Linked DNA regions of Homo sapiens. The protein of the gene in region 1 purifies or fractionates together with the protein of each later gene. This does not show direct contact. Each region holds a gene or a part of one and is shown in the gene's direction. Other genes may lie near its edges. The genes, in order: SH2D1A and LRRFIP2.

Region 1 (3,826 bases):
GCTGAAAAATTCCTACCACCTACTGATGTTGTAGCCATTGTAATGCCACAGCACAATGAATTACTTATGTATTTGTGATGACACTGGTATAAACAAACCGACTGTGCTGTCAGCTGTATAATAGTATAGCACAGGCCAGGTGTGATGGCTCGCACCTATAATCCCAGCACTGTGGGAGGCTGAGGTGGGTGGATCACCTGAGGTCAGGAGTTCAAGACCAGCCTGACCAATATGGTGAAATTCTGTCTCTACTAAAAATACAAAAATTAGCCAGCCATGGTGGCATGCACCTGTAGCCTCAGCTACTCGGGAGGCTGAAACAGAATTGCTTGAACCCGGGAGGCGGAGGTTGCAGTGAGCTGAGATTGCACCACTGCACTCCAGCCTGGGCAACAGAGCGAGACTCTATCTCAAAAAAAAAAAAAAAAAAAAAAAAAAGAAAGAAAAAGAAAAAGAAAAAAATGTATAGCACAGACAATTACATACAGTACACAATACTTGATAATGATAACAAATTACTGTGTTACTGGTTTATGTATTTACTGTACTATACATTTTATCATTATTTTAAAATCTACTCCTACTTATATAAAAAAAAGTTAGCTGTAAAACAGCCTCGGGCAGGTCCCTCAGGAGGTATTCCAGAAGGCATTCTGGAATATGAATATCATAGGAGATGACAGCTCCGTGTGTGTGACTGCACCTGAAGATCCTGCAGTGGGATAAGATGTGGAGGTGGAAGACAGTGATACTGATGATCCTGACCCTCTCTGTAGGCCTAGGCTAATGTGCGTATTTGTGTTTTAGTTTTTAACAAAAAAGTTTAAATAGCAAAGAATACATAAAATAAAAATTTTGAAACAGAGAAAAGCTTATGGAATAAGGATATAAAGAAAAACAGTTTTGTACAGCTGTACAATGTGTTTGTGTTTTAAGCGAAGTGTTATAAAAGAGTCAAAAAGTTTAAAAAAATTTACAAGTTTATAAAGTAAAAGAGTTGAAGCTAAGATTAATTTATTATTGAAGCGATACAGTTTTTTTTTTTTGAGACAATCTCGCTCCGTCACCCAGGCTGGAGTGCAGTGGCGTGATCTCGTCTCACTGCAACCTCCGCCTCCTGAGTTCAAGCGATTCTCCTGCCTCAGTGCCTCAGCCTCCCAAGTAGCTGGGACTACAGGTGCGTGCCACCATGCCTGGCTAAGTTTTTGTATTTTTAGTAGAGATGGGGTTTCGTTGTGTTAACCAGGATGGTCTCGATCTCCTGACCTCGTGATCTGGGAAATATAAATATTTTAAAATAAATTTAGTGTAGCCTAAGTTTACAGTGTTCATAACATTCTAGTAGTGTAATGTCCTAGGCCTTCACATTCACTCACCACTCACTCATTGACTCACCCAGAGCAATTTCCAGTCCTGCAAGCTCCATTCATGGTAAGTACTCTCAACAGGTATAGCATTCTTTATCTTTTATACTATATTTTACTGTGCCTTTTCTATGTTTAGATAGGTTTAGATACACAAATACCATTATGTTACAATTGCATACAGTATTCTGTACAGTAACATGCTGTACAGGTTTGTAGCCTGGAGTAATAGGCTATACCACATAGCCTAGGTGGTATACCATATAGGTTTGTGTAAGTACAGTCTATGATGTTTGCACAACAACGAAATCACCTAATGATGCACTTCTCATAATGTATCCCCCTTGGTAAGTGATGCATGACTGTGGCAATATTATATTGCTATACATTATAATAGTAATTTTATAAAAATATAGTTATATTCAATTTATAGTATTATATCCTTATACTATTGCCATTATATTTATAACAAATATTATTAATATTAATAATTATTTATGTGGGCCTGATAGTGTATTATCCCAGTGAAATGTTTTCACCTTAAGTTTCGATATGTACTTAAAAATAAGTCTATTGTTTGTTAAAACTATCTAATAATTCATGGTTTTATCAATTACAACAGGTCCCTGTTGTAGTTTCTTTCTGTCCAAATGGTCTCTCAACTTGACAAATCTTTAGGAGCATGAATTTCCATATTTCAAAAAATGAAAAGATAAAGAAATCTCACTGGAAACTGTGGTTGGGCAGATACAATATGGAGACAAGTTAGATTCACTATGCTTTACTTCCTATGAATGCAATGACACCATATACGTGTGTCCTAGTATATGTGACATTTATATGTAATATTAAGCTCAAATTTAAAGTATCCATTGTTCTTTTGGAATCTTTCAGTAATGGAAGTTTATTCTTTCACAGGTATCACGGTTACATTTATACATACCGAGTGTCCCAGACAGAAACAGGTTCTTGGAGTGCTGAGGTATAGTTGTATTTATTTTTGCTTCTGGGGGTGTCAAGGAGGTATTTGAAATTTAGGCTGGTTTTATAAAAGAGCAAATTATACATTATTAAGTATTCATAAGGTTTAAATCTCTAAAGCTCCAATCCAAAATTGTTCATGGATCATTAAGAAAGCTTTAGAGAATTTTGGTCCCAGTCCTGTTTAGCCATCATTTTGCAGAGTTGTATGACTTTGGGAGAAAGATAAAAAAGTTGAAGAATTATGTCAAACTTTTAGTGACTATGTGAAATCTTAGCATATCAAAAGTAGGTAAAATAATTAAATGAACAATTATTTACCAAATGATACCAATATGAGTATTGGTATCGTGGGAGATTAAAAAACATGATGCTTATTTTCTAAGAGACTACAATATACTTGGGAAGTTATAACTTGAAATTAAACAGTTATGAGTGGAAGAAACTAGGCTTTGTCAACAGGTGAATCTGGGTTCCAGGTCTGGTCTCCCCTCCTCTCTGATAGGTCTATGATCTTGGGCAGGTTACTTGACTTTTCTGTGAGCCAGTTTCTTCATTTGTAAACGGAGCCTAAGAATCCTCCCTTATGCACAAGGCTCAATTTGAAAAGTAAATAAGATAACACACATAAAGAAGCTGTTTGCCACAAGGCCTGGCACACAGTGAGCCCTCAAAAAAGTGAACTCCTGAAAATTGCCACAACTCCTATTAATAACTCAATCTGTGCATTTAAAATTTTCTGAAGTCTAGACTTCAAGAAGTTAAAATAGCTCTCACGTTTACTGATTTATCAGTAAGTTGGAAAGTATAAATTACAGACCACAAATGTTTTGAACCACTGAGATGAATTAGGCCAAGTTTTCAAACACACTTTTGCTGTATTATGTAAGGATCATTAAAACTATAATACTAACTAAAGATAAAGTTATACCATTTCTAATTGAAACTATTTATACCTGTTTATTTAAAAAATTCTCTGTATCACTGCAGAGATGATTGAATAAGAAATTAAACTTTATTATGAAGAAAGTTATGTGTAAAATATACTGACAAACACACACACACACACACACACACACACACACACACACACACACGTTTGTATATTATTTCGCCAGAAATAGCTCTTCTCCCCAGAGAAATACCCTTCAGCTGCTGAAGAATATTATGTAAGGAAAGGATCTTAAATGCTTAGGGTTTAACAACTTTGTTTTTCAACTTGTTTTCCTGCATTTTGAGTATAACATCATATGAGATTGTTACATGCTTGTGATCATGTTAAAGAAGAGAGGGCTTATTGAACACAAATGCCCCCTCATCCTGTTGTCTGATCTGACGTTGTTTATGTAATAATATTGTAATTTTCTGCACCAAGAGAGCAGAAGATTGGCATGACATCCGCAAATAGAAAATAGTTTAAAAAATTCTTTAATTTTTGAAATGCATATTGCATTTTTTTCTATCTACTAAATTTACCTTCT
Region 2 (3,826 bases), on another chromosome or scaffold:
CTCCAAGAGTAGATTAATCCCACTCAGTATTTTCAGATGCATCTGGTGTTATTTCAGTTCCAGTTTGTTGAATCTTGGTGCATCTGACTTGTCCCTTTCTAAACTAGTGACTTGCCCTCTCGGTACATAGATGTGGTCACCCTTCATTGGCATCTGGAGATTTTCTTTGCATGTGATTTAGGTTGGGTTCCCTTTTTCCGGTGTCTCATGCCTTTCTCCTTATTTATTCTCTTATTTTGGTACATCTTCCAGTAGCTTCCTGAGAAGAGGGTTTGTGGATTGTTAATTTTTCATGACCTTGCAGGCCTGAAGATGTCTTCATTCTACCCTCTCACTTGATTAAAATAGTTTGGCTGGGTAGAGAATCCTGAGTTGCCATGGTTCTCCTTAAGATTTTTTAAAAGGACATTTCTTCATTGTGCTGTGACTTCGAGCATGGCTGTTGAGTTTTCATGAACATTTTGAGTTCTGATCTTTTCTGATTTGTGATCTATTTTTCTCCTCTTTGTGGAAGCTTGTATCCTATTCTCTTTCTCTCTAGCATTCTGGTGTAATTTGAAGATAGTCATGTGATTTGAAGTTTTCATGTGTGATGCTGGGCCCCTGTCAATTCTAGGAGCTCCCATCCTTTAGTTCTGGGAAAATTTCTTGAATGATTTTGTTACTGATTTTTTTCCCCTCCCATATGCTGTGTTCTCTATTTTGGAACTCCTATTCAGTCATTCAACAAATGTTGAGTGAGATTCTACTATTTAACATGCACTATTCTAGGCACTGGGATATTTCAGTGAATAAATTAGTTTAGAAAAAAAAAATTCCTGCCTGAGAGGCATTCTAGTAGGAAGACATCAGACAATATTATATGATATGTTAGAAGGTTTGTGTGAATGCATTTATTATATGTGTTTCTCTGGCTACTTACAGCAGCATAGGGGCAGGCATGGAGTGGGTAGAGAGCTAGATTTTACTAGGACAGTATTAATGGGGCAGGAGAGGTGAGGGAGTATGTAAGAAAATGATTATAATGATGGACCTTGAAATTAAACTGGATGAAGAGGATTCGGGAGATATTCAGGAACACATCAAGGTATAGTAGAAAGAAGATGTAATCTGTAGATTAGTGGTACCAGTGTGGTTGAAGGGTTGTTGGAATTCGGGTCTAGAGAGAATGACCTGGAAAGATGAGGAATAGTGGTTAGAGAGAGGATACATGGAACTAAATTGTGTAGGGATTACAATTGTCTAATGATGAGATCTGGTATATGACTGTGGGAGTGAGTAGCTGAGGGCAAGAAGGGATAGATAGCAAGATCCTTGGAAGGGAGGTGGGTTAGTCCATTTTTTGCTTCGCTATAAAGGAATACCTGAGGCTGGGTAATTTATAAAGAAAAGATGTTTGACTGGGCACAGCAGCTCATGCCTGTAATCCCAGCACTTTTGGAGGCTGAGGCAGGTGGTTGAGGTCAGGAGTTGAGACCAGCCTGGCCAACATGGTGAAACCCCAACTCTACTAAAAATATACAAAAATTAGCCGGGCATGGTGGTGGGTGCCTGTAGTCCCAGCTACTTGGGAAGCTGAGGCAGGAGGGAGGTGGAGGCTGCAGTGAGCCAAGATTGCGCCACTGCACTCCAGCCTTGGGTGGCAGAGTGAGACTTTGTCTCAAAAAAAAAAAAAAGGAAAAAAGAAAAAGAAAAAGAAAAGAGGTTTAAACTGGCTCATGGTTCTGCAAGCTGTAGAGGAAGTATGTTGTCAGCATCTGCTCAGCTTCTGAGCTCAGTTTCCTGAGGCCTCAGGCCAGGCTGGTCTTGAACTCCTGACCTTAGGTGATCCACCCACCTCGTCCTCCCAAAGTGCTGGGATTACAGGCATGAGCCACCGCGCCCAGCCAGCCTCAGGAAACTTCTCATCACGGCGGAAGGTGAAGGGGCAGCAGGCACGTCATATCTCGAGCGGAAGCCAGAGAGAGTGGGGAGGTAACATACACTCTTAAACAACCAGATCTTGTGTGAACTACCAGAGCGAGAACTCACTCATCACCAAGGGAATGGTGCAAAGCTATTCATGAGGGATCTGCCCCATGACCCAGATACCTCCTGCCAGGCCCCACCTTCAGCACTGGGGAATACATTTCAACATGAGATTTGGAGGGGACAGACATCCAAACCGTAAGAGGAGATATACCAGAAATTGAGAGATCATTTGTAAGGGAGATCCTCTACTTAGATGTACATTGAAATTGCCAAAAATTAAGACAGGAATAGTCTAGAGGGAGTGCAAGTTGGGAGCTATTTAATAAATGGTGATGAAGGAATGGGATTTTGGCAATGATAAGTAGTTAGTGTATATAATTTGAAGAGACGAGATTAAGACCTGGGACTTTTAGGGAAGATGGAGGGAAAATACCAGCAAGGAAAGCAAGAGGACACCTATTCCATTTCTAGATTCAGTGGTAGGAAGCTGTGGAAGTACAAAAAAAAAAAGGGCCGGGCATGGTGGCTCATGTCTGTAATCCCAGCACTTGGGGAGGCCAAGGTGGGTGGATGACTTGAGGTCAGGAGTTCAAGACCAGCCTGGCCAACATGACGAAACCCCATCTACTAAAAATACAAAAATTGGACGTGGTGGCATGCACCTGGAATCCCAGCTACTCGGGGGGCTGAGGCAGGAAAATCGCTTGAACCCGGGAGGCGGAGGTTGCAGTGAGCTGAGATCATGCCACTGCACTCCAGTCTGGGCCACAGAGCGAGACCCTGTCTCAAACAAACAAACAAAACAAAACAAAACAAAACAAAAACAGTGTTTGAGAGAGCTGCAGAAGCAGCAGGAGAGGGTTATCAGAGCACGAGGGTAAAGGGGGGATGCTCAGAAAAGACTGAGGACAGAGGGTGTTTGCTGATGATGGACTGATAATTCTAGAGGGCCCAGTGGAAAAGTTTCAGGCATTGGGAAAGGTTAGGAGATGAAGGTTAGTGGTCGTACAGACCCTTGTGAGGAAGACTGCAGAGGAAGGATATGACCCTTTGTGAGATGCACATAAATAGGAATGATGGAGATACTGAGATTTGTCCTGGTTCCCTCAAGGCAGCTAATGATGGTGACCCTGTGTGTTGAAAGGGCAGAGGTGCCTGGGAAGTATAGAGTTAGTCCCAATATAGAGCTTACCCTTTTCCCATTGGGGAGTGGCAAACTTAATCTTAGTGCAGAGGCCTCCCTTTGACCCCTGTTGGTGGAGTTAAGGACAGCTGGGGAAGCCATCTCTATGTATCCAATTATTATTATTATTATTTTTTTTTTTTTTGAGACAGAGTCTCGCTCTGTCACCAGGCTGGAGTGCAGTGATGTGATCTCCACTCACTGCAACCTCCACCTACCAGGTTCAAATGATTCTCCTGCCTCAGCCTCTGGAGTAGTTGGGACTACATGCGCGTGCCACCATGCCCCACTAATTTTTGTAGTTTTAGTAGAGATGGGGTTTCACCATGTTGGCCAGGATGGCCTCGATCTCTTGACCTTGTGATCCGCCCGCCTCAGCTTCCCAAAGTGCTGGGATTACAGGCGTGAGCCACCGTGCCCAGCCCCAATTATTTTTACATACAGGATGTTTTCTAAGTAAGAAAATTTAACCTATGTCTAAAAGTAAACAACAAAAAACTGCTCATGGAATCTTCCATTTTAAGAAATAATCTCTTGAATATACCCTATCAGTTAACTGTTTATATTTTTGTTTTATTTTTTTTAGAGATGAGGTCTCACTGTGTTGCCCAGGTCGGTCTCAAACTCCTGGGCTCATGTGATCCTCATGCCTCAGCCTCCCAAGTAGCCTGA

Evidence for each region.
Region 2: the proteins of SH2D1A (region 1) and LRRFIP2 purify together in Homo sapiens (affinity purification with mass spectrometry; one large-scale study listed by BioGRID and IntAct). This does not show direct contact.

What each region holds. Positions count from the first base shown.
Region 1 is NC_000023.11:124,363,479-124,367,304, forward strand, and holds part of SH2D1A (SH2 domain-containing protein 1A), read left to right. Parts: intron 1-2,282; coding exon 2,283-2,346; intron 2,347-3,826.
Region 2 is NC_000003.12:37,059,259-37,063,084, reverse strand, and holds part of LRRFIP2 (leucine-rich repeat flightless-interacting protein 2), read left to right. Parts: intron 1-3,826. UniProt on the Homo sapiens protein: May function as activator of the canonical Wnt signaling pathway, in association with DVL3, upstream of CTNNB1/beta-catenin.